Linked DNA regions of Homo sapiens. The protein of the gene in region 4 interacts with the protein of the main gene of each other region in a pairwise test. Each region holds a gene or a part of one and is shown on either strand. Other genes may lie near its edges.

Evidence for each region.
Region 1: the proteins of ATP6AP2 (region 4) and VKORC1 interact in a two-hybrid assay, tested with the Homo sapiens proteins (one study listed by BioGRID).
Region 2: the proteins of ATP6AP2 (region 4) and PTTG1IP interact in binary tests that used the Homo sapiens proteins (3 or more experiments, as listed by UniProt).
Region 3: the proteins of ATP6AP2 (region 4) and GLP1R interact in a protein complementation assay, tested with the Homo sapiens proteins (one study listed by BioGRID).

The regions. Positions count from the first base shown.
Region 1 is NC_000016.10:31,091,783-31,099,437, forward strand, and holds the start of VKORC1 (vitamin K epoxide reductase complex subunit 1), read right to left. Parts: upstream 3,016-7,655; 5' UTR 2,948-3,015; coding exon 2,775-2,947; intron 1,640-2,774; coding exon 1,530-1,639; intron 1,085-1,529; coding exon of another isoform or gene 1,001-1,084; intron 1-1,000. Other genes in the region: zinc finger protein ENSP00000375192-like, read right to left, coding at 3,102-3,596.
Region 2 is NC_000021.9:44,863,676-44,870,696, forward strand, and holds part of PTTG1IP (pituitary tumor-transforming gene 1 protein-interacting protein isoform 1 precursor), read right to left. Parts: intron 1,773-7,021; coding exon 1,720-1,772; intron 1,714-1,719; exon of another isoform or gene 293-1,713; intron 195-292; exon of another isoform or gene 118-194; intron 1-117. UniProt on the Homo sapiens protein: May facilitate PTTG1 nuclear translocation.
Region 3 is NC_000006.12:39,044,105-39,051,780, reverse strand, and holds the start of GLP1R (glucagon-like peptide 1 receptor precursor), read right to left. Parts: upstream 3,001-7,676; 5' UTR 2,941-3,000; coding exon 2,863-2,940; intron 1-2,862.
Region 4 is NC_000023.11:40,583,956-40,590,976, reverse strand, and holds part of ATP6AP2 (renin receptor precursor), read right to left. Parts: intron 1,992-7,021; coding exon 1,861-1,991; intron 1-1,860. UniProt on the Homo sapiens protein: Multifunctional protein which functions as a renin, prorenin cellular receptor and is involved in the assembly of the lysosomal proton-transporting V-type ATPase (V-ATPase) and the acidification of the endo-lysosomal system.

The DNA.
Region 1 (7,655 bases), on a different chromosome or scaffold from region 4:
AGGCTAAGGTGGAGAATCGCTTGAACCTAGGAGGTGGAGGTTGCAGTGAGCCGAGATCATGCCACCACATTCCAGCTTGGGCAGCAAGAGCAAGACTTCGTCTCAAAAAAAAAATGCCCGGTGAGGTTGACTCACGCCTGTAATCCTAGCACTTTGGGAGGCCAAGGCGGATGGATCACCAGGTCAAGAGATTGAGACCATCCTAGCCAACATGGTGAAACCCTGTCTCCACTAAAAATACAAAAATTAGCTGGGCGTGGTGACACGCGCCTGTAGTCCCAGCTACTCAGGAGGCTGAGGCAGGAAAATTGCTTGAACCCGGGAGGCAGAGGTTGCAGTGAGCCAAGATCGTGCCACTGCACTCCAGCCTGGTGACAGAGCGAGACTATGTCGCAAAAAAAAAAAAAAAAAAAAAAAAAAAATTAGCTGGGTGCAGTGACATGCCTATAGTCCTAGCTACTCAGGAGGATCGCTTGAGCCAGGTTACAGTGAGCTATGATTGTGCCACTGCACTCCAGCCTGGGCAACAGAGCAAGATTATTTCTTAAAAAAAAAAAAAAAGAAGGCTTCAACAGGTCCCCTCCAAGGGACTGGTCTCTGAAGCTCTTGCCATTGCCCAGGGAGGGAAAGTTCTGAGCAATAAAATTTCTTAAATAAATCGGCCAAGTCTGAACCATGTGTCAGCCAGGACCATGGTGCTGGGCCTCCCTCAGTGATGCCTTCTCTGGAGCTGGGAAGGGTGACTCAAAGGGAGCGTGGGAGCCTGCTGGGAAGGGTGGTAATGGATAGTCTCATCTCCGGCATATGGCATCAGCAAGGCCTGGGGCGCCATCGTCTTCCACTCCCTTGGTTCCTCTCTCTGTTCTTATGGGACTAGATACAAATTTTCCTGCTGAGCACTAAATGAGACAAAAGATAGCTCATGCTCAGCTTCTCCTTAAAAAGGAATTTCGGCATCTTTTCCACAAAACTGGGGTGTTGGTGGGGCATGGTAGCTCACGCCTGTAATCCCCCCAGCACTTTGGGAGGCTGAGGCAGACAGATTGCTTGAGACCAGCCTGGGCAACATGGCGAGACACCATCTCTACCAAAAAAAAACAAAAACAAAAATTAGCTGGGCATAGTGGTGCACGCCTGTGATTCCAGCTGCTTGGGAGGCTAAGGTGGGAGGATCCCTTGGGCAGGGAGGCAGAGGTTGCCATGAACTGAGATCACGCCAGTGCACACTAAGGGCATCCTAGACCTCACTTTGGGCAACAGAGCCAGACCCTGTCTCAAAACAACAACAAACAAAAAACCTGGGGACCTAGGATGTCTTTAAGGGCCCTTCAGCCTCTAACAGTACTTAAACCAATTAAAAGACTCCTGTTAGTTACCTCCCCACATCCCCACCCGCAGGACGCTCCGTGATGAGCAGCTAGCTGGCTGTCAGCTGTGTGGATCACCAAGATTGCATGGAGTGGGGCTGAGCTGACCAAGGGGGATGAGGGGCGGGGCGGGGCGGGCAGGGAGGGGGCGGAGCCACTCACCTAACAATAGCTGTAGTGTGTAGAAGATGCAACCGAATATGCTGTTGGATTGATTGAGGATGCTGTCCTGTCCCAGCACATGCTCCACCAGCCCGAAACCCCTGCCCCACCTGGCAGAGGGGTGGGGTGGGGTGGAACCAGGTTAGGACTGTCAACCCAGTGCCTTGGACCCTGCCCGAGAAAGGTGATTTCCAAGAAGCCACCTGGGCTATCCTCTGTTCCCCGACCTCCCATCCTAGTCCAAGGGTCGATGATCTCCTGGCACCGGGCACCTTTGGCCACGTCAGGATTCCATGTCACTGACCCTATCCTCCCCTCTCCCCAGACCAGGCCCGGACGTGGCTACTCCGTAGGCCCTGCTTTTCATCTTAGACCTTAAGTAAGTCTCTTTTTTTTTTTTTTTTTTTTTTTTTTTGAGACGGAGTCTCACTCTGGCCCAGGCTGGAGTGCAGTGGCGCGATCTCGGCTCACTGAAACCTCCGCCTCCCGGGTTCAAGCGATTCTCCTGCCTTAGCCCCCCCGAGTAGCTGGGATTAAGGCACCCGCCATAGCGCCCGATTAATTTTTCTATTTTTGGTAGAGACAGGCTTTCACCATGTTGGCCAGGCTGGTCAACTCCTGACTTCAAGTGATCCATCCGCCTCGGCCTCCCAAAGTGCTGGGATTACAGGAGTGGGCCACCGCGCCCGGCCCTTAAGTAATTCTTAAAATGGCAAGGCTGGTATAACGGTTCACTCGGTTTTGCATCAGAGACTGGGAGTCGGGGGCAGATTATCTTTGCCCTGGACCCCAGAATCTCCAGCTCCCTGGCCACTCACTCGCCTCCTCTGTATTCCGTCATTATGCTAACGCCTGGCCATCACGCACAGCCAGACCGGGCCACCTTGTTCCTGGGCGCAGCCATCGCCAACACCCCCCTTCACCTGCGCGCCGTCCTTGAGACCATCGTCAATCTCTACCGCCATCCTGCCTCCCCGCCTTTCCTGGTCACCGTTATTCCTTGGCATCCAATTCACGTGCGAGTCCCCGGAATAATCCCAGTCCCCAGCACTGTCTGGTCCCTTGCCTCGCACTCTTATTTCGAACACCAGTATCGCTGGGTAGCTCAGCCCCTGTGCAACGACCCCGCGAGCAGTCCAGCCCCGTGTCCGTTCCCCGGGCACACCGATCCCAGACTCCAGAATAATCATCTGGCATCCTGGCCGCCCTGCTCCGAGGCCCCACGCCTCCCACTCCCGTGCACACCTGGAGGAGAAGACGCGCGAACAGCTGATGGCGGTGCCCACGTCGCAGAGCGCGCGGTAATCCCGGTCCCGGGCGCGCGCCGCCTTCACGTGCAGCGCGTAGAGCGAGAGCACTAAGCCCGTCAGGCAAAGAGCGAGCCGCACCCAGCCAGGGCTCCCCCAGGTGCTGCCCATTATCTCCAGGTTCCGCCCGAGGCGCCCGCGGAGAAAACCAGCCACGGAGCAGGGGCCGGGCGGCGAATGGCCGCGCCCCTCCTGGCCCTCTGACTCGGCGATTGGCCGGCCGTGCTCGCACTCCACGACCCAAATGGCTGTTCCAGGGCGCTAGTCAAGCGGGCGAGTTAGGAAAACAGCGAAGAATGCCGGGACTAGTGAAGCGGGTAAGGGACGTGCGGAATCGCGGCCCCAGCGGCTGCCAGGCATGATGGGAGTTGTAGTCGGCGCGGCTGCAAGGCATCAAGGGAAATGAAGTCTCCACAGATTTAAAAACTGTTGGCCGGGCACGGTGGCTCACGCTTGTAATCCCAGCACTTTGGGAGGCCGAGGCTGGCGGATTACCTGAGGTCAGGAGTTCAAGACCAGCCTCGCCAACATGGTGAAACCCCATCTCAACTAAAAATACAAAAATTAGCCGGGCGTGGTGGCACATGCCTGTAATCCCAGCTACTCGGGAGGCTGAGGCAGGAGAATTGCTTGAGCCGGGGAGCCGGAGGTTGCAGTGAGCCGAGATCGTGCCACTGCACTCCAGCCAGGCCGACAGAGTGAGACTCTGTCTCAAAAAAAAAAAAGAAAAAAAAAAGTGTGTTAGTGTGGTTAACAGCATTTGCGCTTACCCTATGCCAAGTCCTGTTGTAAGAATTGCAGCATCCGGGACCTAGAGACCAGCGGATCAGGGGATCCAGCGAATACGGCGATCCGATTCGGGAACCAAGCATTTCCCCTGAAACTATTTCAGGCACCATTCGGGCTGCAGCCTCCCATCCTCCCGGGTCCTGCCTCACCAGTGCTTCCTGGTGGTCGGTCTCCCTTTCTCCCATACATTCACAGAACCACTCCTTTGGCCACACACACCCTTGACAGTATCCTAACCTCTCTACTATCATGGCGCCCGCCTGGCAACACCTGAGCTTGCATCAACTCAACAGTCAGTCTCTCCTTTCCAAGCTGTGGGCCAGATGAGGTCTCTCCTTCACAGACGTCCCATCTGATGGTGACCCATCTCTCCTACACCTTCAACCTCTCCATCCTCCCCATCTACACTGCAACTTGTTTCTCTTTCCCATCTCAGAAACAGCAACAAATCTCCCTTCACTAAGAGGTCCTTCACCAGCCTCCTCTCCCGGCATTATCCCATCTACCCCTCCACATTCAAGTTTTTGGAAAGATTCTACACTCCCAGTCTCTACTTCCTCACTTCTTCCTTGCTGCCCACGCCATAAACTAGCTGCTGCCTCCAGCATTGCCCTGACACCTAGTGGCTGGTGTCACCAAGACGCTAGACCCAATGGTTATTTATTTATTTATTTACTTATTTTGAGACGGAGTCTCACTCTGTCGCCCAGGCTGGAGTGCAGCGGTGCCATCTCGGCTCACTGCAACTTCCGCCTCCAGGGTTCAAGTGGTTCTCGTGCCTCAGCCTCCCAAGTAGTTTGGACTACAGGTGCCTGCCACCATGTCTGGCTAATTTTTGTATTTTTAGTAGAGACAGGGTTTCACCATGTTGGCCAGGCTTGTCTTAAACTCCTGACCTCAAGTGATCCACCCACCTCGGCCTCCCAAAATGCTAGGATTATAGGCGTGAGCCACCGCACCCGGCCAATGGTTGTTTTTCAGGTCTTCTCTTGCTTGACTTCCCAGAGGGATCCCTTACTGTTGCACCTACCCTTCTGGGAACTCTCTTCCTCTGGCGTCTGTGATATTTCCCTCTCCTGCTGGCTCCTCCCTCTCCAGATGCTGTTTCTCACATCTACTCTCTTCTAGAGAGTGTGGTAGACAGAATAATGGTCACCAAAGATGTCCCTGCATGAATCCCTGGAACTTGTGAATATGATAGGTTAAATGGCCAAAAGGGAATTAAGGTTGCAGATGGAATTAAGCTGACCAATCTCCTGATTTTATTTTATTTTATTTTGTTTTTGAGGTGGAGTTTCGCTCTTGTTGCCCAACTGGAGTGCAATGGTGTGATCTCGGCTCACTGCAACCTCCGCCTGCCAGGTTCGAGAGATTCTCCTGCCTCAGCCTCCCGAGTAGCTGGGATTACAGGCACCCGCCATCATGCCTGGCTAATTTTTTAAATTTTTAGTAGAGACAGGGTTTCGCTATATTGGCCAGGCTGGTCTTGAACTCCTGACCTCAGGTGATCCGCCCACCTCGGCCTCCCAAAGTGCTGGGATTACAGGCGTGAGCCACCGTGCCCAGCCTATCTATCTATTTATTTATTTATTTTTGAGATGGAGTTTTGCTCTTGTTGCCCAGGCTAGAATGCAATGGTGCTATCTCGACTCACCGCAACCTCCACCTCCCCGGTTAAAGCGATTCTCCTGCCTCAGGCTCCTGAGTAGCTGGGATTATAGGCATGTGCCACCACGCCTGGCTAATTTTTTGTATTTTTAGTAGAGATGGGGTTTCTCCATGTTGGTCAGGCTGGTCTCAAACTCCTGACCTCAGATGATCCACCCACCTGGGCCTCCCAAAGTGCTGGGATTATAGGCGTGAGCCATCATACCAGGCTCTATTGATTTATTTTTATTTTTATTTTTGAGACGGAGTCTCGCTCTGTTGCCTAGGCTGGAGTGCAGTGGCACAATCTTGGCTCATTATAACTTCCGCCCCCCCCCAGGTTCAAGCCATTCTCCTGCCTCAGCCTCCCGAGCAGTTGGGACTACAGGCGCGTGCAACCATGCCTGGCTAATTTTTGTATTTTTAGTAGAGACGGGGTTTCACTGTGTTGGCCAGGCTGGTCTCGAACTCCTGACTTTGTGATCTGCCTGCCTCAGCCTCCCAAAGTGCTGGGATTACAAGTGTAAGCCACCACGCCCAGCCTATTTTGTTTATTTTTTCAAAGACCCTTGACACCCAGGCTGGAGTGTAGTGGCACTGTCATAACTCACTGCAACCTCCGTCTCCCAGGTTCAAGCGATTCTTGCACCTCAGCCTCCCTAGTAGCTAGGAGTACAAGTACGTCCCACCACACCTGGCTAATTTATTTTTATTTTTGTAGAGATGGGGTCTCACTTTGTTTCCCAGGCTGGTCTAAACTTCTGGTTTCAAGCAACCTTCCCACCTCAAAGTGCTGGGAGTACAGGCATGAGCCACCACCACACCTGGCCTAATTTGCTGATTTTTATTTATTTTTTATTATTTATCTTAATTTTTATTTTGAGACAGAGTCTTGCTCTGTCATCCAGGCTGGAGTACGGTGGTGCAATCTCAGCTCACTGCAACCTCCCCCTCTCGGGTTCAAGCAATTCTTGTGCCTCAACCTCCCAAGTAGCTGGGATTATAGGTGCTGGCCACCACGCCTGACTAATTATTGTAATTTTTTTTTTTTTTAGTAGAGACGGGATTTCACCATGTTGGCCAGGCTGGTCTTGAACTCCTGACCTCAAGTGATCCACCTGCCTCAGCCTCTCAAAGTATGGGGATTACGGGTGTGAGCCGCCGTGCCTGGCCCAATTTTTGTATTTTCAGTGGAGATGGGGTTTTGCCATGTTGGCCAGGCTGGTCTGGAACTCCTGACCTCAGGTGACCCGCCTGCCTCCGCCTCTCAAAGTGCTGGGATTACAGGCATAAGCCACCATGCCTGGCCCACAGGGGTCCTTAAAAAATGAAGGAGGATGGCAGAAGAAAGTCAGAGGGAGATGTGAGTAAAGAAAAAAGACACAGAGAGCTGCAATGTTTCTGGTTTGAAGATGGAGGAAGGGGATTGTGAGCTAATAAATACGGGTGGCCTCTAAAGGCAAGAAAGGGTAAAGAACTGGATTCTCACTCTAGAGTCACCGGGAAGGAACTATCAACATCTTGATTTCAGCCCAGTGAGACTCTGTCAGACTTCTAAGCTACAGAACTGTAAGATAAATTTGTGTTGTTTTACATCATTAAATGTGCAGTAACTTGTTACAGCAGCAATTAGAAATGAATACAGAGGACTGGGCATTAGGCCTGTATCTCAGCTTTCTCTGATCTCCTGGTGTGTTCCTGTTATTTATTGTTGGTTTCCCCCAGAATGAGTGATCTAAGAGGAAGCAAAATAGAAGCCGCAATCTCTTTATGACTTAGCCTCAGAAGACACACACTGGGGCCAGGTGCAGTGGCTTATGCCTATAATCCCAGCACTTTGGGAGGCTGAGGCAGGAGGACCACTTGAGCCCAGGAGTTTGAGACACCCTGGACAACACAGGGAGACCCTCACTCTATAAAAAATAAACAAAATTAGCCAGGTGTGGTGGTGCACACCTGTAGTCCCAGAACTTTGGGAGGCTGAGACAAGACAATGACTTGAGCCCAGGAGTTTGAGACAGGTCTGGACAACGTGGTAAGACTCTGTCTTTATAAACATTTTTAAAATTAGGCGGGGCATGGTGGCTCATGCCTGTAATCCCAGCAATTTGGGAGGCTGAGGTGGGTGGATCACCTGAGGTCAGGAGTTTAAGACAAGCTTGGCCAACATGGCGAAACCTCGTCTCTACTAAAAATACAAAAATTAGCCGGGCATGGTGGTGGGTGCCTGTAATCCCAGCTACTCAGGAGGCTGAGGCAGGAGAATCATTTGAACCCGGGAGGTGGAAGTTGTAGTGAGCCGAGATTGCCTTCCTCACTCCAAGAGTTATAAAAGATTTTGACCATATTTTCTTCTAGCATTTAATCAATTAATTAATTAATG
Region 2 (7,021 bases), on a different chromosome or scaffold from region 4:
TGACTTCCAATAGAAAAATCCAGAGACTAAAAAGAAGCACCATCTAGAAAATGCACCAGGACCAGGCGCATTAGAGCAGGTTCAACATCACCAATGTCAAGATCTGAAACCACAGAAACAGCGTCTTTCAATTTTTAATCAGCAAATGCAAGTATCCACTTAAGTCCCACAAACTGACAGGGTGTGTCTCGAACCTACGCTACGGTCTCGTGGAGGAAGAAGAGTTTTTAAGAACATGGCTCATGCCTTAGAATAGAAATCATCGAATACATCTTTCCCGGCCTCCTCAAACCTACGCTACGGTCTCGTGGAGGAAGAAGAGTTTTTAAGAACATGGCTCATGCCTTAGAATAGAAATCATCGAATACATCTTTCCCGGCCTCCTCATATCATGAAACCTCATTGCCGGGGAAAGGAAGCCTCTGGCCCTGCAGTTCTCAAAACCTGGTAAACTCCTGACTGGAAGGGGCAAGGGGTGGGCGAGATCAGGAATCCTAAGAAAAAGGCCCCACAGGATGCTGTTTTCTGCCTAACCACTTCCCGCTGCCGTGGGCCTTCCCTCAGGTTTCCCGTGCTGATTTCATAGCGCTGCGAGGAGACTTGGGTGCTGCCGAACCAAGAGCTGCGTGGCAAGGCAAGCCCAAGAGGTGCCAGCCAGGCTGGCCCAGGCGCAGGCCACCACGCAGAGAAAACCAAAGGACCCTGTTCACACGTTTTTGTTTTTGTTTTTGTTTTTTAAAGACAGTTTTTTGCTCTTGTTGCCCAGGCTAGAGTGCAGTGGCACAATCTTGGCTCACTGCAACCTCCGACTTCCGGTTTCAAGAAATTCTCCTGCCTCAGCCTCTCAAGTAGCTGGGATTACAGGCACCCGCCACCACGCCTAGCTAATTGTTTTGTATTTTTAGTAGAGACGGGGTTTCACCATGTTGGTCAGGCTGGTCTCCAACTGCTGACCTCGTGATCCACCTGCCTCGGCCTCCCAAAGTGCTGGGATTACAGGCGTGAGCCACTGCACCCAGCCCTGTTCACACGTCTTTAACAAGACCTGCACTGTGATGCTGCTTCCCCACCACGGGTGCTCCTTCTTCCAGGTGGGCATCTGCATCAGTCTCCATCGGGAAGGCACCCCGGGGAGTCTCGGGCCCCACCTCATGCCGTGGAGGCTTAGGGAACTTTGCTCCAGACCGCTACCCTCTTGTTGAAGGTCACACAGGTAGTTAAAATCCAAACCTGAGCCCCAGGTCACGACCAGAGAGTGCTATGGACAGCCTGGCCCACCGGCCCAGAGGGCTGGTGCCTCTCTCTCCTTGCTGTGCCCCTTCCAATCCTGTGTGAGCAGCTGAGAAAGCAGTCTCTGCTGCAGCCCGACAGCCTGGGAAAACACGGGCTCACAACCTGAGGGTGTAGCTTTGCGGACAGCCAAATTTCTCGCTATGGGCCTCGTTAGGAAGACTGGCCACGCAGTGCTGGCCCCATCTGCATAGGAGTGAAATCATGGATACTGACCATGCTCAGACAGTAACTGCAGTTTTCATGAGAAGGTTTAATATACCTGAAATGGCTAAAATAACATTTGATAACGATTCCAAAAAACATCCCCCCAAATCCCAAACAACAGAGCCCTCCACACATCCCAGCGAATCCCTGGACCTAGAGAAAGCCCGTGTGCCTTTGGACGGTCTGGACGGCACTCTGGTCTCTAGTCCACGTGCTACTTACGGAGACGTTCTTCAGGCACTCTTCACAGGTTTTGTTTGTGTTCTGAGAACAAGCTGCAGGAAAGAGGCAAGAGACAAGTCAGTCACTGAGAATCAGGCAGTGTAAATATTAGTCCAGCAGGGCAGGGTGGGCACCAGTGAGGGGTGTGGCACCAAGAACCTCTGATGTGGAATTACCAAATGAAGGTCCTCTTCCTGAGCCCCTGCTGATAACAAGCCTTCTTCAAGACATGTGGAACGAGTGTTCAGGAACCCCGCTGCAGGCAGGGCACAAAGAGTATAAACATGCGGCTCCTATCCACAAGGGCTCTTCTGGGAGAGAAGAGTGCCAACACAGAAGGCTGTGTTTCAGATCTCTCTGTGAGAGGAAGTGTGCCCTGTGGCTGTGTAATCACTAACCACAAACCTGCTGGGACCTTCTGCTCATCAGCAGGCACTCTTTTGGGAACCCAAGAGCCTCCATCCGAGGCCACAGCAACGCCAGCGACACTGCCACGCAGCACACTTGTGTCTTTGGACTCACCTACAGATCTCATGTGACAAAGCAAGGTCTTAGTCCCCTGGTAGCCTCACTCCAGACTGGGCTATGCTCCCTGTACCAACCTGTACCAAGGGAGAGGCCCGGCACACCAGCCTGCTCCAACCACACAGAACACCCTGAGACTCTGCCCACTACTCAAAGCGCTGCTACTAAGGAAGGGGTCAAACTCCACGCAGCCAACAGCTCTGGAACTCAAGCCAGTCAGAAGCAAGAGCGACTGCATGAGTAACTTCCAACATGCAACCAAGCTGACTGCCTACTCCCCCAATCCTGTAACACACACACACACACACACACAGCCTACTCCCCCAATCCCATAACACACACACACACACGCAGACTGCCTACTCCCCCAATCCCGTAACACACACACAGACTGCCTACTCCCCCAATCCCATAACACACACACACACACACAGACTGCCTACTCCAATCCCATAACACACACACACACACACACACACAGAGACTGCCTACTCCAATCCCATAACACACACACACACACACACACAGAGTGCCTACTCCCCCAATCCCATAACACACACACACACACACACGCAGACTGCCTACTCCCCCAATCCCGTAACACACACGCAGACTGCCTACTCCCCCAATCCCGTAACACACACACAGACTGCCTACTCCCCCAATCCCATAACACACATACACACACACAGACTGCGTACTCCCCCAATCCCGTAACACACACACACACACACACACAGACTGCCTACTCCAATCCCATAACACACACACACACACACACACACAAACACAGTGCACGCTGAAAAGAGCTCTGTGCTCATCACCAGTCACCAGACAAAGGCAAATTAAAACTCCAAATGACAGATGACTACACACCTACCAGAATGGCTAAAATTAAAGAGAATGACAATACCAAATGTTGGCAAGGATGTACAGCAACAGAACTCTCACACAGTGTTGGTGGAAGTGTAAATGGCTCAACCATTTGCAAAGAAGGTCTGGCAGCTGCTCCTAAACAAACATGCGACCACCTATGACTCAGCAATTCCACTCTTAGTATTTCATCCAGGAGAGAAGGCGCCTGCATCCACAGATGGACCTGCGCAGGAAGGCTCCGTGACAGCCCCAAGCTGAACACAGCCCAGATGTCACTCTGTAGGAGGGTGGACAGACAGACTGGAACACTCACACGATACCAGCAGGGCATCAAGAATAGCAAACATGCGGCTCTCGTATCAAGGGATCTTCTGGAAAAGGCATTCCAAACACAAAAGGCTGTTTTACGTGTCTCTCCTTTGGAGGTGAGCTAGGCGGCTGTGCAATCACTAACACTGTTCAGCGATAAAAAGAAACGAACTGCTCTATGTAAAACATGGATGAGTCTGAAGCACATCATGTGAGCGAAAGACGCCTTCCACAAAAGACCCTACCGTGTAATTTCGTGGCTATGCCGCTCTAGAAAAGGTGAGACTCACGTATGGAGGGAGGGGGGCAATGGCTGCCTGGGGGACGGCCATGCGTGGGGGAGGCTGAATCTTCCAGATCGAGGGTCTGTCTCGGTCGCGGCTATGTGGGTGTAACTCACTGAACAGCACAATTAAGTTTCCCACATATTCCCGTAAGAAAAATGTATCTCAAAAGAAAAAACAAGACAACTGCTGAACTCTGGTCCCTGACAGGCATGGTGAAGGCAGGAGAGCACGCTCATGTCTGTGACTGATGCTCACGTCTGTGACTGACATTCACGCAGGCGTGGAAGGCTGTGGGGGACACCTGGACAAATGCAACACAGCAAAGCATGGCGACACGGCTGAAGTGGCGGGTATACAAGCGCGCACCACAAAATCCTGCAGCTTTGCTGTCCATGTGAAGAGCTTCATGATGAAATGGAGGGAAAAGAGCTTCAGCTTTAACTTACAATTTCACTCATTACGTTTACCAAAAGGGACAAATAATACATCGAGTACATTGTTGTGATCCTTCTATTTAACAGTGTAGTTCTACACTCCACTTTTCTGAATAAATCTCCACTTTATTTGAAACGAAAGCACATTTTGTCACATATTCTATAGCAATTATCACTAAGTAGTACTTTTCTCAGAGTCTCTAGCGATGTGCTATTCGGTTTATGGAGAAGTTTCTTTTAAGCCACTTTAGATACTTGAAACAACAGGCTGTATTCAGCCCCAGGGAGGCAAAGAAAATTGACAACCAGTGAAAAGCCTTAATTTCTTAAATCACTGCTGAGAGACAGGGTTACAGGAAACTTTGATAAGAACAGCACTGCTGACGTTCCCAAGTCCCCAGCTACTTGGCACTGTGGGAGGAAGGAGCAACTGTGGGCTGATGGTGGGCAAAGACCCCCGTGGTGCTGCAATGTGACGGGCACCATGATGAACTCTTGGTTTTAAAATTCAACTCCTAGCTCTGTCTGCTGAAAGGGCCTAGAAAGGACAACACCCAGCAGCAGAGGTGTATTCTTGGTGCCCAGGTCGTGGTTTCTACGTGCTGTTCCCCATCAGCCGGAAGCAGGGCTCCTCGGAGAAATGGCTGATTCCAGAAGTGGGGCAGGAAGTGAACACATGAGCCACAGACAGTGTGCAGTGCCCGAGAGTGGCACAGACATGAACGAATGGCAAGAGGACCCAGAAGCCAGCCTGGAGGGAGTCTTTCTGGCCATATCTGGGCCAAGTGAACATCAAAATAAATGATAACAGTCATGAACTCTAACCCCTAGAAGCCACACTGACATGAAATAAAGAGAAGGCCGAGTGGCAAATGCTGAAGAAATGATGAGTTGAGAAGCCTCCATTTTACAATCATCACAGCCAACACTAATGCAGGCAAGAATTCCCCAAAGATGCCAAGTCCACTGGGTCTGCCCCCGAAGATGCCAAGTCCACTGGGTCTGCCCCCGAAGATGCCAAGACCACTGAGTCTGCCTGTGGACTGACAAGATAGTCTCAAAGCACCTCCCCACAGGTGAGTCATTACTCATGGAGAGGAGGTGGCACTTCCAAGAGATCAGTTATCTCCACCATAACCCAGAACAACATGATGATGGGACAAAGTGACAGCATGTGCCTCCCACGGAGGATACTGAGAGGACAGAATCACTGTGCCGTGCTCCTGCCAAAGCGCACCTGAATCGAATCAAAGGAAACACCCGGTAAGACCCACTGAGGGTCCTTCCACAAATTGGCTTTCTCAAGACAAAGAGGAACTATTCTAGATCAATGGAGATTAAAGAGACACAACAATTAAATTCAACTTGTGATCCTGGATTTCAGGGGGTAGGGGAACAGGACATTGTTGGGGTAACTGTTTAAATTTGTATATGGATTGTAAGTTAAATCAGGTATTCAATGTTACATGTCCAGATTTTGATAATTATATAAATTTCAGTTATGAAGAAGAACAGCCTCCTTCTTAGGAGATAGACTCTGAAGAATGTAGAGATAAAGGGTCACAATAGTAACTTACTCTCAAATGGTTTGGTCAAAATAACAACAGGCAACACAATTATGATTGTCAATTTACAATACATTTTTAAAATATAAGTAGAGATAGAGTCTTGCTATGTCACCCAGGCTGGTCTTGAACTCCTGGCCTCCGGCAATCCTCCCACCTCGGCCTCCAAAAGTGCTGGGATTACAGGTGTGAGCAACTGTGCCCAGCTGAATCAATTTTTAAAAATAAATAAAACACAAACAATTGTATTATAAATTTAAAAAATAAGGAGATCTAGAGAGTGCTAAGGCAAACAGAGCCAATGTTGAGAATGGAAGGGCATCCAGGACTTCACTGCACTATTCCTTCAACTTTCTGCGCCTCTGAGGTCTTTCTAAATACAATCTGGGCAAGGAGACAGGGTATGCCCAACACACCCACTCGAGTCCTTCCTGAAAAGTCATCCATGAGGAAGGGTGCGTGTGCTTCCTCTCCTCAGCCCAACAGTGGCTACAAGTGACAGGGGATTTTCATTTTTAAAGCTTCTTTCTGATAACTAGGTCTTGTGTGAACTAAAAGAACTGAGCTCCAAAACACACACCGTCAACTCCATCTATCCCCAGACCTCTGGATTACCGGTCAGTCTGAGTCAGACCCAGACCTCTGGATTACCGGTCAGTCTGAGTCAGCGGAGAGGCATGAGAGGAAGAGGGAGAGAAAAACCGCCCAACATTCCTCCTGCTCCCAGCAGGCCAAGAACAGAGCGGGCTTTCAATAAGGGGGAAAACACCAATGTTTACAGTCCTCATGAAAATAACATCAAAGATGAAAAAAGGTCATTCTATTCTATCCTTTGAAAACATATCATCTTGCATAGTAAGAAAAGAAAGGCCGGGTGCAGTGGCTCACGCCTGTAATCCCAAAACTTTGGGAGGCCGAGGTGGGCAGATCACCTGAGGTCAGGAGTTCGAGACCGGCCTGGCCGACATGGAGAAACCCCATTTCTACTAAAAATACGAAAATTAGCCGGGTGTGATAGCATGCGCCTGTAATCCCTGAGGCAGGAGAATCACTTGAACCTGGGAGGCGGAGGTTGCAGTGACCTGACATCACGCCACTGCACTCCAGCCTGGGCAACAGGGCAAGACTCCATCTCAAAAAAAAAAAAAAAAAAAAAAAGAAAGGCATGAATCATTTGTTACTGCTTCAAAGACAAGCAGTGTTTATTTCTCTAAGTGATCACTATCTCTTATCTCATCACAAGATACAGAAAAAACATGTGCTAGAAAACCAGAGATAAAAACTGCCCTTGTGTTGCTTAAGTCTA
Region 3 (7,676 bases), on a different chromosome or scaffold from region 4:
CCCACACAGACTGTTACACACAGGGTCACTCACACATACCTGGGAACTGGGGGTTCATATAGCCTACTCCCTTCTCCCCCTGGTCTGTCTCAGACTACCTGTCTGTATCTCTGTCCCCTCCTCCAACCACCACCACCACCACACACACATAGGAATTTTCCTAGGGGCAGGCTGCAGCTGAGGAAGCCTGTTTTGCCTTGGTGCAAGGCATTCGAGGGCAGGATGTGGTTTCTTGGTTGCTCCTGCCCCAGCCCCCAGCCTGGGTCCTGTCCAGGAGGAAACCCAGCTTAGAACAATGTCCGCACTGATCAAGGCTCAGCCCTGGACTCCACCTGCCATTCACTAGAGTACAGAGACCCAGGGTCTCCAACAGCCCCTCTCTCATACTATCCTGCAGCCCTGGAAAACACTTCTGGATCCCCAAGGACAAATGGGTCAGTTCTGCCATTTGACTAAAGTGACTAAAGTTGCCATTTCAGGGGCCAGTGTCTCAATCCCCTCCATAACCCTATGTGATAGAGCTTATGATCCTTATTTACAGATAAGGACATGTATTGGGGATAACCAAGTGTCCAACTCCAGATCACCAGCTAATAGCAGACCCTATATTTGAATCCAGTTGTGTCTGATTTTAACTTTGAGTGTCAAAGGCTTGCCTGTCTCCTCAGTAGGCCCGCTCCCTCACCAGGGTATTGGAGAGGTAAGGACCAGGGTAGGGGAATGAGCCTTCCCAGCAGCAATGAAAGAGTAGCCTAGGGCACCTTCTTCAGAAGTCAACTCAGCCATCCCCCTACCTGCAGGGATGCTGTTTCCAGCCTCACGAGACCTGACAGTGAGCAGCTCACTCTCAGAGGTCTCCCTTCAGTCCCGTCTGAGTAGGAGGTGTTAGGTCAAGAGCCCAGCCCTTCACCCCTTTCTCTTCCCTGCTCCTGAACTGCTGGGCTACTTTATACAGGGGACCCTCTTTTTCTGAGCTTTCATTCCCCCATCAGCAACATGAGGGGAGTAACTCTAACCCTTTTGACTTCATAGACAGAAAACAAAATGCAAAATACACTATTTTTTAGTCTTATAAGCACGCATGATGTTGTGTCATAATTGTTGCAATCTATCCTTAACACCTCCTGTGACTCAGATCTCTGTGGCAGCTCAGTTTCCCATGACAAGAGCACCCCCTCAAAGCTCCCCTCCCTGCTAGGACCTGTCCCCTCCTATCCTTCTCTACCACCCCAATCCTGTTATGCCCCCAGGATGCCCAGCTTTTGCCTTAGGCCTGGGGCTAAGGAGTAAAATCGGATCAGAGGAAAGTGTGGGTTCAGGAGCCTGACACTTCTGGGAATAAGGCCTCTGGGAAGACAGCTCACAGAAACTTTCCTCTTCCCTTTGCTTTCTTCCCTTCATTCAAACCAGACCTGTAAACCTGGCCTGGAGGAGGATGGAACCAGGAAGCAGAGCCTCCACCCCTATCCCAACCCAGTCCGTAAGAGGAGGGAACGATGGGCAAGAACCACATCTTGGGTCTGCAGCCCTGGCCCCTGAAAGATCCCAGCCGCACCAGGAAAACCAAGGCCTGGCTGGGGGCGCTGTGAGGAAGGTGTCTTGGAAGGGGGAGGTTGTCTCCTGGGGCTCAGGACAGCAGCTGGGCTGGGGAACAGGGGCAGGGAGAGGATGCGTCTGGAAAATAATCTGGGGGCTGAAAAATGTGCTGGCATCTTAGCTGAGAGGTATGTCTGTCCACATCTGGGGTTTCCGCCGAGGTGGAGTCTGCCCTCACCAAGGCAATGGTTCTGGGACAAACTTCAAGGTTCGTTCAGGTCCACTCCCCACAGATCTCAGTTCTTTAGGTCTGGGGGTAGCAGTGGGAGGTGATAGGAAGAACCTGTTTCCTGACCCAGGACAGGCCACCCAAGTCTATGTCTCCTCTCTGCTCAAGCAAGTCCCAGCATCTTTGGACAGCTCCCCTCTTCAAAAGCAGCTGACCACTGTCCCTAGCCCAGGATCCCAGGGCAGGAAAAGCAACAAGGGCAAGAGAGAGGGGCTGCGGTGGTCCACCTGTGGCCTGCTCTCTGGTGGCACCAAGGAGCCCAGGTGTTCTTGCGTGTCCCAGTATGCCTTCTCTTGGGGCCTGCTGTCAGTGCAGGATGAGAATGGGAGGTCAGCAGAGTGGGTGAGTGGGGGCGCCTGGCTGCTTCCAGGGGGGCACTGAGCCTTCTGCCTGTTTGCTACAGAGGCTGGTAGGGGACGGGGGGTAGGTTCCATCTGGGAGGTCACTGGGAAGGACAAGCTGCCACCGCAGGGCCCCAGGAGCCATGAATCAAAGGCTGTGCTGGGGGCTGATGAGAAAGGGAGAGGAGCCGGGTCTCCGCACCCTGGCCCTCTCAGCTCCTCCCAGGGTCTTCTCAGGGTCTTTGAGCAGGTGGATTGTCTGGGGAGGCACTGCGGGAGAGGGGTCTGGGTCAGACTGTGGGGCAGAGGGAGTCCGGGAGGATGCCGGGCTGTGCCAGGGCCGCTGACACGGTTTAGAAGGAGTTGGGAAAGTGCTGGGGACAAAGGAGAAGCGGAGCAGAAGTCAGCGCAGGGCGGCCGCGGGGCAGCGGGTGCCCGGGCAGAGGGACCCGGGTGGCGAGGAAGAGGGCGCCTCGCTGGGGTTGGGGGGAATCCTCTGTAGTCCAAGCCCTCACCTGGGCCTTCCAGCCCAGGGGCACCAAGTCTCCAGTCCCTACTCCCCCCGAGGCTTTCGGATGCCCCCGCCAGCGGTCTCGGAGTTTCGTTCAAGTCCCGGGGCCCTCCACCAGGACACTGCGCCTGCAGCCCGCAGAGCCACCCGCCTCCCCCGGTGTCGTCGGGGTCCCTGGATCTCACCTGGGGGCGGGGGCCGGCCCTGCCCACCATCCCGAGCAGCAGCAGCGCAAGGCGCAGCGGGCCGGGGGCGCCGGCCATGGCGGGGAGTTCAGGACTGGGCCATCGCTGCCACCTGCGGAACCGCGTGCGGAGACTGATCCCGGGCTGGTGGCGGGCGGTGGGGGAGGAGCCGGCGAGGGGCCGCCCTGCCCGCGGGAGGGGCCTGGCAGGGTCCCGGTTCTTCCGGCCGCCAGAGACCCCTGGGCCCGCCCCGCCGCACCCCTCTGCCGGTCCCGGGCCAGGAGATAGCGGGCACTGCTCTCCGAGCGAGCGCGGCTGGGAATCAGGAAGCGCAGGAGGCGGCCACCAGCTCTGAGCGCCGACAGTGCGCCTGGCCGGCTTTCAGCGACAAGCCAGGCCCTCCTCCCACCCTGGCACCCCGGACCTCCTCCCGGGTCTCCCAGCTGAGGAAAGCTACAGCAACCCCCGCCCATTCAGGGTCCCTCAAAGGAAACTGAGGCCTGAGGAATGGACGGGACTTGTCCAAGGTCACACGGCTTGGCAGGCCACTCCTGGAAAGTATCCTCAGAGCCAGGGGTGACTAATAAGAACTTTTTTTTCCCAGGATTACCCCTTCCCAGGTCCTCTTCTCATTCCCATGTTCTGTCCTGAAGGCAGGCCCAGGATAGTCAAGGTTGGGGGTGGGGAGACTGACAAATGGATCCACAGAACTCTGACAGTCGCAAGGGTCTAGAGGTTCCCCTCTACCTGGAAACTTCAGCATTGCAGGGCAGGGAGGGATGAGGCTGGGGTCTGCCTTTCTGGAAGCTTCCCTGCCACCTCTTGCAGCTCCAGCCTCCTGCTCTTGTAACCTGTGTATGTGTGATAATGTGTGTCCATGGTTGTTCCTGCCTTCTTTATCTCTCTCCCTGCTTCGCTTCTTGGGGACTCTGGATCTTTCCTGTCTGTTTCCACTCCCACCCCTAAACACTGCAGGGCCCTCAGGTTCCCTTCTTACACCCAACAAGTGGAAAGAGAATGCTAAGAGGGCACTGACTGTATCTTCCCTAATGCTCTTGAGAAGTGGGGATGGGAAAAGAGGATCCCCCACCAAAGAACCTTGATGCCACTCTTAGGAAAGATGAGTTGTGGCAGAGCCCAGCCTCGGACCTGCCGTGGGGCATGTCGACTAAAGGGACAGGAAGTTTGTGAAAGTAGCTACTCCTGGGGAGAGAACTGAACTTCTCAAAGTCCTGAGGAAGGCTGGACCTGCCTGAGCCCAGGGAAGGAGACAGCCAGTGGGAGGGGCCCCTGGCTTCCATTCACCAGGAGAGACTCTCCTCTCCAGCAAGCTCTGGTTCCACCACCTGAGACTCGTTTATTCCCTCCCCTCCCAAGAGGTCAGTCTAGCAGGGACCTTCTAGGTATCACTTAGGATTAGGTTGTTCACCTGGGAGTGACAGAAAATCCCACCCCAAACAACAATGGCATAACCAAGGGCTCTCTCATGTAAAGCAAGGCCAGAGGTTCAGCCCAAGGTTGGAGTGGCTGCTCCCTGATCATCAGGGTGCCTGGGTCTTCTAGCTTCCACCATCCTTTGGTCCAAGATTTCCACCTCATGATCCAAGGTGGCTGCTCCAGCCACGATATCCAAATTCCAACCAGCAGGAAGGAGGAATGGGAAGGAGATGGGTGCACCTCCACCCATAAAGACACATCTTGAAAGTGGCAGCCATCAATTCCACACCTCTTGCTCAGAACTTAGTCACATAGGCACTGCTAGCTGCAAAGGAGGGTGGGAAAAGCACCCTCTATTCCAGGCAACCATGGGCAAGGTTAAATACTGGGCTTTTATACTCTAGAAGAAGGCAAATTTTAAAAAAGATACTGGAAGTGAGTTTTAGGCACTGCTATATCAAGTTTAGGGTGGAGAGAGGAGAAAGGAAGAGATAGAGAAGCTATTCAGACAGAACTGGGGTCTTTATCATGAATTTGTCAGCCTCCAGATTACATTGATTCAGCAAGTATCTATCGAAAACCTACCATGTGCCAGACACCATTCTAGGTCCTGGGGATACAATTGGTGATGCTGTCCCTATCTTCAGAGAGATTATATTCTAATACAGGAGGGAAACATTAAATAATTATTGGAGTCATTTATAATTGTGTAAGCACTATTATGGTAAGCAAATGCCCCCAGTACTTATAAGGCCATGTTTTCTCTGCCAGGGGGCTTTCTCTGACTTGGAGAACATTTTTGCATTCAGCCAGTGCAGGGTAGGTACCCCTAAGAGCAGCTGTCAACCATGGATGGACAGGAGTGGATGGATAAATACCCCATCCAGAGGTGTGTACCACAGTCTCCCAGAGGTCCCCTGTGCGATGGAGCCCAGCTTCCCACAGCAGTTACCTGCTCAGTAATGCACCCTGTGTTGGCTTCATTTCCTCACTTGTCCCACTTTCCCACAGTAGGGTACCAGTGCTTCCGGGGTCACACCTCACATAAACAATTTGGCTGGGCATGGTGGCTCACCGTCTGTAATCTCAGCACTTTGGGAGGCCAAGGTGGGCGGATCACCTGAAGTTGGGAGTTCGAGACCAGCCTGACCAACATGGAGAAACCCCATCTCTACTAAAAATACAAAATTAGCCGGGCGTGGTGGTCCATGCCTGTAATCCCAGCTACTCGGGAGGCTGAGGCAGGAGAATCGCTTGAACCTGGGAGGTGGAGGTTGCAGTGAGCCAAGATCATGCCATTGCACTCCAGCCTGGGCAACAAGAGTGAAACTCCGTCTCAAAAAATAAAATAAATGAAAAATAAATAAATAATTTGTCCTTAAATCCTTATCTCAGGATCTGCTTCTGGGAGAGCCCAGCTGAAGACAGTGGGCATATGAGGGTATTTAGGAAGCTCAGGGCCTGTCCCTCCTCTTAACATCTGGGGGTCCAAAAACCTCTGAGTTTGCTGTGATGCTAGGACAGAGTATGGACTCGGGAATACAGTTTCCTTCTTTCCCCTTGCTGTTACCAGGGCCTCTCACTCAGGCTCCTTAGAGCAGAGGAAAGGATGAGCTCCCTAAGAGCAGAGATTTGAATGGATGGCATACTGTTTGGTAAACTGTTAACACCTGTAATCCCAGCTACTCGGGAGGCTGAGACAGGAGAATCGCTTGAACCCAGGAGACGGAGGTTGCAGGGAGCAGAGATCATGCCACTGCTCTCCAGCCTGGGTGACAGAGCAAGACTCCATCTCAAACAAACAAACAAGCAAAAACCCTTGAAAACAAAGACAATAGCTACTACTTATTGGGCCAGGAGCTGCTGAATGCTTGGTGTACCCTGATCTCATCCAGTATTATGCACAAGTGTTATTGTGCCAATTTTATGGATGAGGAGACCGAGGCTCAGGTATGAAAAGTGAGTTGCCCATAAAAGCAAACAGGGCATTCATCCCAGGTCCACCTGCCCTGAGAGCTGGTGCCGACACCCCCAATAGGCAGCTGAATTTGTGGCAGCACAGAGGATGCAGGCTGCAGCTCAGCCAGCCTGTCCGGGAGCACCTCGCTCTACAGCCCAGAGCTCCGGGTCCTGCTCCTTACCCTTAGGCCCAAGGCTTCTCCAGTGACCCTAGCGTGGGGTGCCCTCAGCTTCCACTAAGAAAATGTGGTATTGAGATTGTCTTCAGAAATAGGAATGGGAGCAACTGATGTGTGCTCCTGAGGAAAAGGTGCTGTAAGGCCCATTCGCCAAGGAGGCAGACCTGAGAGCAGGCCACCCGGCCCTCTTTTGTCTTCAACAGGAAAACCTTGTCCCTAGCAGGAAGACCAGGTCAGTGGACAGGACAGATTTTTTTTTTTTTTTTTTGAGACAGAGTCTCATATTGTCACCAGGGCTGGAGTGCAGTGGCGACACTGCAACCTCGCCTCCTGGGTTCAAGTGATTCTCCTGCCTCAGCCTCCCCAGTAGCTGGGATTACAGGCACCTGCCACCACGCCCAGCTAATTTTTGTATTTTTAGTAGAGATGGGATTTTGCCATGTTGGCCTGGCTGGTCTCGAACTCCTGACCTTGTGATCCTCCCGCCTCAGCCTCCCAAAGTGCTGGGATTACAGGCGTGAGCCACCGCGCCCGGCCCAGGACAGATCTTTCACTTGAGAGGAGGCAGGAGGGAGAGAGAGGCAGGAAAAGAGAGGGAGGTTGTAGAGTGGAGAGGAGGAGAGGGAAGGAAAGGGAATTGCTAGAAAAGACAGGTGTCTCTTCTTTTTTTTAATTTTTTTTTTGAGACAGAGTCTCGGTCTGTCACCCAGTCTGGAGTGCAGTGGCGCAATTTCAGCTCCTTGCAACGTCCGCCTCCCGGGTTCAAGTGATTCTCGTGCCTCAGCTTCCCAAGCAGCTAGGATTACAAGCTTATGCCACCATGCCCAGCTAATGTTTGTATTTTTAGTAGAGACAGGGTTTCACCATGTTGGCCAGGCTGATCTCAAACTCCTCGCCTCAAGTGATCCACCCACCTCAGCCTCCCAAAGTACTGGGATTACAGGCATGAGTCACTGAGCCCGGCCAGGACAGGTATCTCTTGCACGCATAGTTCAGGTTTCTTTCCAAGCTCCATGTCCCTAAGAAACTCATTTACTTCCCAAAGTTCAAGACCACATTCATCTTCTGAGTGATGAAATAAGGAAAGAGCCAGCATTTTTTTCAACCTGATATAAACACACATGCATACACATACCTAAACACAGATTTTTAGAGTCTGACAGTCAAATCCATCTCAGTCACTTACTCTGTATCCTTAATAGCACTAAACCTTGGTATAAAATGGGTCCAGTAATAAGA
Region 4 (7,021 bases):
AAAAAGCAAGCAAGTAAACAAAACATAGGTACCTTTCAAATTTCAGATCACAAAATATTTTCTTCATGTAGCCATGGAAATTTTCTTCCCCCACATCATTTTTTGCCCTCATATACAGCATCACTTTTATCTTTCACAGAGACATAGCAAGATGGTCATTAAAACATCCTCTTTAGACTAAGATCTTTATAAATAAAACAATTCCTACTAAAAGTAACTATCATTAGTTTACTAATAATTATTTCTCAGTTATTTTAATAGCCATCAGTAGTCAAGTTTAAGGTTGTAAAGAACTAGATGGTCAGGTGTGGTGTTCACGCCTGTCATCTCAGCACTTTGGGAGGCTGAAGCAGGTAGATTCCTTGTGTCCAGGAGTTCAAGACCAGCCTGAGCAACATGGCAAAATCCTGTCTCTACAAAAAATATAAAAATGATCTGGGCATGGTGTTGTACGCCTGTGGTCCCAGCTACCGGGGAGGCTGAGGTGGGAGAATCTCTTGAACCTGGGAGGTGGAGGTTGCAGTAAGCCGAGATCAGGCCACTGCACTCTAGCTTGGGTGATAGAGCGGGACCCTGTAGCAAAAAACAAAACAAAACAAAACAAAAAAAGAATTAGGTACAGGCTGGGTGTGGTGGCTCGTGCCTGTAATCCCAGCACTTTGGGAGGCTGACGCAGAAAGGATTGCTTGAGGCCAGGAGTTAAAGACCTACCAGCCTGGACAACATAGCGAGACCCTGTCTCTACAAAAAATTAAAAAATCAGCTAGGCGTGATGGCATGCATCTGTAGTCCTAGCTACTCAGAAGGCTGAGGCAGGAGGCTGAGGCAGGAAGATCACTTGGGCCCTGGAGTTTGAGGCTGCAGTGAGTCATGCAGACTCAAACTCAGCTTGGGTGACACAGCCAGACCCTGTCTCTAAAAAAATAACTAGGTACAAATTTCATCCTTAAATGTAAACAACCAATCCTGTTCACTTTGGTTGCCCAAAGACTACAAAAAGCTCAGGGGCTCTGCCCTTAGGCCTGGCAGTGAAGCAGTTCCCAGGTAGAGTTTCTGTTTTCAAGGGTGCTCAGGATTTGGAGAAAAGTTCCTTTCAGTGACTGATGATATATATCTAGAGACCACATCAAAAGCACCAGACTTACAAAGAGAAGGAGATGATAGCACCGAGCAAGCTGTATTTCCTTTCTTCTGAGCCCTTACCTTTCGATCTCTCACATTGACTGGATCTAGACCCTCCCGCCCCCTACAATCACATAAGCAGCCAATTACTACAACAGGTCATAGCTCCATTCTAGGAAACCAAGGTCCTTGGCTGCCCCATGGCTACTGACCACATTATTTTCCTAACCTCAGGCATAATGCATATATATTTTATCATTCATAGTGAATCTATCGCCTATACTAAAAAAAAAAAACCAGAAAGTAGATATCCTATTAAGAGTAGGACAGATGCATTCTCTAATATACAAAGAATTTCACTACTATGAATAAATAATTATATAGTTAATGATTTCTAATGATTTGTTTCAGAAGCCAAGCTTGAAGCACTCATCCAAAATCTTCCCAACTACAAATGGGTTTTTAAAAAATTAATTCATTTATTTTTGAGATGGGAGTCTCACTATGTTGCCCAGGTTGGTCTCAAATTCCTGGGTTCAACTGAGCCTCCCACCTCGGCCTCCCAGAGTGCCGGGATTACAGGCGTGAGCCACTGTGCCTGGTCCAGATGAGCTTTTTAACTTTTGTAATCTGTACCAAACGTACCTACGTTCGTTTGATGCTTTTTTGGGCTATTAGCAGAAATCAGTAAAAATGTTCTTAAAAGCAGCTCCAAACATTTAAAAAATATATACATACTTCTTTCACAGAGAAGCCCATGGACAATGCAGCCACGTCTGGGATCCGCTCTCCTGGTATAGGCCAATTTCCATTTCGGAAAACAACAGACCCTGGTGATTTTAATATACTAAACTCGTTCCCCAAAACACCTGAAAAGAAAACAGATCAGTAAATGAATTATCAACATCATAAATCATTTACCTTGACAATTATTAAATATAATACATGTTTCCCCATTCACCACTGACTTAGCGTATTAAATTATGACTGGTCAAAATGCTGAGTCCTAAACAATAACAAATTCTTTTTCAAAGTATCACTCTAAGAATTTAAGTCCACACATTCTGCTGGAACAAAAGTACAACTATCAGAGCCTCTCTGAACCTATTCTGGTTCAGGGTCTGCCTGATAAGAACAAGAAACAAACAAAAGTCTCAAAAAGAGATCAACAAAGGTACAACTACAAAACAGGGTTTCCTAATGATATAGACACCTTCCTACTGATGGCTCTTAAAGAGGCATGTGGCAATTTGGCAGGAATTAGAAATCAGTGGCATATCTCCAAAATTTAAAAAACAAAAAACAAAGCCCAGGCACAGACTAAAAAGGAAGAAGCTTGAAATCTCTAAATTATTTCTACCATCAATCCTTTCTACACAATGCAAATTCATAAAGTTCCTATTATTTCACTATAAGATTTTACCAGGTTACTATGTCTTAGGATAGGTAACATCTTTCCTTATGTCCCATAGGCAACCCTAGTGAAATAAGGACTGTCAAATGTTGGGGGGGGGGGGGGGCATACATGTCACAAGTAGAAACATAAAAACACTTCAGACTTTAGAAACAAAGTCCAGGAAACAGTATTTGTAGTTGACATGTCAAGAGGGTAAGAAAAGGTATTCTGTAATGATAAAGTCAACTAGTCTAAGGATTCAGGATTAAAAGATAAAGATGAGAATAAAGGGACTATTTTATAAGCTCTCCACAGCTAAGGATGAGGTATTTGGCCTCTTCATCCATTATCTATTAACCTCGTGATGTCTAGCTTACACAGGGACAAGTAGCTAATTTCAGTTACTGAAAGGAACTTTTCTCCAAATCCTGAGCACCCTTGAAAACAGAAACTCTGCCTGGGAACTGCTTCACTGCCAGGCCTAAGGGCAGAGCCCCTGAGCTTTTTGTAGTCTTTGGGCAACCAAAGTGAACACGATTGGTTGTTTACATTTAAGGATGAAATTTGTACCTAGTTATTTTTTTAGAGACAGGGTCTGGCTATGTCACCCAAGCTGAGTTTGAGTCTGCATGACTCACTGCAGCCTCAAACTCCAGGGCCCAAGTGATCTTCCTGCCTCAGCCTCCTGCCTCAGCCTTCTGAGTAGCTAGGACTACAGATGCATGCCATCATGCCTGGCTGATTTTTTAATTTGGGGTTCCTATTAAAAAAATGGGCTCCAAGTCTAGAACAAATGTTAGCCACACCTAGTATGGGAAAATTAGACTTTAGTAAAGAATCAGTGTTATTCTCTTGACCTAAGGAAAGTACCACTAACAGGGGATGGAAATAAAGTTGGAAGCAACAGTAAATGTTTTGGTGTTGCAGTATTGACAGTAAATAAAAGGCTTCAGGTTGGTGCTGATACACGGGAGTTACAAATTTCAATCCGGCACAGCTGTCAGAACAGGAATGTCCAAACTGCTCTAGCTGAAGACAGACCAAAAAAATTAGCAGAATGGAATGGTCTTTTGTAACTGATAGATATCTTGGTTCACTAAAGTAGTAGTACTGCAAACACTAAGAAAAATGGGGAACCAAGAGACCTATGCTTCCCAAGAACCATACACATATTTTGTTTGTTTGTTTTGAGACAGAGTCTCACACTGTCGCCTAGGCTGGAGTGCAGTGGCACAATATTGGCTCACTGCAACCTCTGCCTGCCAGGTTCAAGCAATTCTCCTGCCTCAGCCTCCCAAGTAGCTGGGATTACAGGTGTGTGCCACCATGCCTGGCTAAATTTTGTATTTTCAGTAGAGACAGGGTGACACCATGTTAGCCAAGCTGGTCTCAAACTCCTGACCTCAAGTGATCGGCCCGCCTCAGCCTCCCTATGTGCTGGGATTACAGGCGTGAGCCACCGCGCCCAGCCCCAGGTACCATACACATTTAAAAAACCATATTTTGATTTGGAGATACCCTTGTTTTGAGACACGGCCCTACTCATTCAATTCTGGCAAACCTATACCAAATAACTTTGCCCCAGCTTCGTAGTTTCAACTTCCATGCCTGTACAACAGTCCTTCAGAAGCCCAGAGCTTTAGAAAACCTTAGAGTCAGGGACTCCTATACAGAGGAAGGTCATTTGTCCAAACTTCTGCTTATTATAAGTATAAGCATGTCTCAGGGATACCTGGCAGAAAGTCACCCCTCCTCTATTTCAATACTACCAGTGATGGGGACACCACCTCAATATACGAACTACATTTGCCAGCAACTGGCTCCATTTTCCTAACATTCTAGTCCTTTGAAAAGTTTTTCCTTGTACTGAACTGAAATGGGCTTCCTAACTTTCAACTTCCTATGCTATCACTCCCCAACTCAGTCTCACCAGATAACCTCATCTCCAGCTTCACAGAGAAAACAGAGGAATTTCTTGAGCTACCTGCTTCCTCTCCCCACCACAAATTTATCTGCATAAGCCCCTATCTGTAACTCCTCTCCCTCCAGACATGAGGGCAGGGATGTCCCTCCTCCAGACTAAGACAATCCTGTGTTCAGTCTTTTTAGGGACCTTTGTTCCTTCACTGTTTGTTAAGGAAGCCACTCTTCTAGGACAGACAACACATCAGGAGTGAGGTGGCTATATGGTAATAGCCATCAAAAGATGGCCCTATAGAATACAAGCTCCATGAAGGCGGGGATTTCAGTGCGTCTTGTTCACACACTATCCCCAGGGCTGAGAACAGAGCCCGACACATTGGTGCTCAATAAGTACTTGTTGAGTTAATGAATGAATGAAGTCACACTTCAAACCACCAGTTTTTTCCCTCTCCACTGGCCCTTTCACTTCAGCATAAAAATACGCTCAAGGCACTCCCATTCTATAACTAAAACCATAAAAAACCTCCTTTGGTCCTACCAGTCTCCACCAGCTACCAGCCTTGCTCCCCTTCAGAGGAAGAATCCAGGAAGAGCAGTCAACCACCGTTTGCTTCTATACTTCATTTTAAGTTTACTACTTAACCCACAAAATTTTAAAAATTTTTTTTATTTTTATTTTTTGAGACAGGGTCTTGCTGTCACCCAGGTTGGAGTGCAGTGGTAAGGATCTCAGCTCACCGCAACCTCCACCTCCCAGGTTCAAGAGATTCTCCTGCCTCAGACTCCTGAGTGGCTGGGACTACAGGCACGCACCACCACGTCTGGCTAACTTGTGTATTTTTTTGGTAGAGACAGGGTTTCACTACGTTGGCCAGACTGGTCTCGAACTCCTGACCTCAAACAATCCGCCTGCCTCGGCCTCCCAAAGTGCTGGGATTACAGGCGTGAGCCACCCCACCTGGCCGCCCACACCTTCCAAGCCCACCATGCCACTGAAACGACTCCCCAAACTCAAAAGGCAATTTCCATCCCTTAATTTTATCTAACTTCCCAAAGCATTTGATACTGGCAACTCCCTCCTTGAAAAGCCCCTGCTTTGGTCTTCATGCAGCCACGGCTCCTGGTTTTCCTTGCAATCCCTTTGGCTGCTTCTCCTCTGTTTCTTTCCCTTCCTGTCCTTTAAAGCAGTGGTAGCCAAACTTTTTAGATTTCAACCCTGTCAGCCCAAAATTGGAAAGTAGCCCTTCTTTCTTCTCTCTGTCCCTCTCATCCTCTCCATGTAAAGTATATACTTCTACTATAGTAATAGATTATGTATTTGATTTGTGCTATATTACAAAGCATACAAAAATAAAAGTTTTTAAAAGGATGAGATACCTGTGTAGTATTTTTCCCAATCTAATAATGAGAAAACATCAGATAAACCCAAATTGAGGGACAGTCTACAAAATACCTGACCATTATTATTCAAAAAGAGATAAGATAAAAATAGGCCAGGCATGATGGCTCACACCTGTAATCCCAGCACTTTGGGAGGCCAAGACAGGCGGATCACTTGAGGCCAAGAGTTCAAGACCAGCCTGGCCATAATGGCGAAACCTCATCTCTACTAAAAATACAAAAATGAGGCCAGGTGTGGTGGCTCATGCCTGTAATCCCAGCACTTTCAGAGGCTGAGGCAGGCAGATCATTTGAGGTCAGGAGTTTGAGACCAGTCTGGTGAACATAGTGAAACCCCGTCTCTACCAAAAAAATACACAAGTTAGACAGATGTGGTGGTGCATGCCTGTAGTCCCAGCTACTCAAGAGGCAGAGCACCTGAGGTTGGGAGTTCAAGACCAGCCTGACCAACATGGAGAAACCCCGTCTCCACTAAAAAAATACAAAATTAGCCAGGCATGGTGGTGCATGCCTGTAATCCTAGCTACTCGGGAGACTGAGGCAGGAGAATCACTTGAACCCGGAAGGTGGAGCTTGCAGTGAGCCAAGATCATGCCATTGCATTCCAGCCTGGGCAACAAGAGTAGTCCCAGCTACTTGGGAGGCTGAGGGACAAGAATCACTTGAACCCCAGAGGCGGAGGTTGTAGTGAGCCGAGATCGTGCCACTGCACTTCAGCCTGGGTGACAGAGCAAGACTCTGTCTCAAAAAAGGAAAAAAAAAAAAAAAAAGATAGAGGCTGGGTGCGATGGCTCACACCTGCGTGTAATCCCAGCACTTTGGGAGGCTGAGGAGGAGGATCACTTGAGCCCAAGAGTTTGAGACCTCATCTCTACAAAAACAAACAAAAAATTAGCTGGGTATGGTGGCATGCGCCTGTGGTCCCAGCTACTAGGGAGGCTGAGGTGGGAGAATCGCTTGAGCCTGGGTGGTCGAGGCTGCAGTGAGCTGTGATCACACCAGTGCACTCCAGCCTGGGTGACGGAGTGAGACCCTGTCTCAAAAACAAAAACAAAAAGGATATAAATGGAATTTCTAGTACATTCATCTGGCATCCAAATGGATCACCTAGCATACTCCACTTTGGAGATCTGAGGGCTCCATTCTTGACTCTTACTGCTTTCCTATTCTACATCTCTC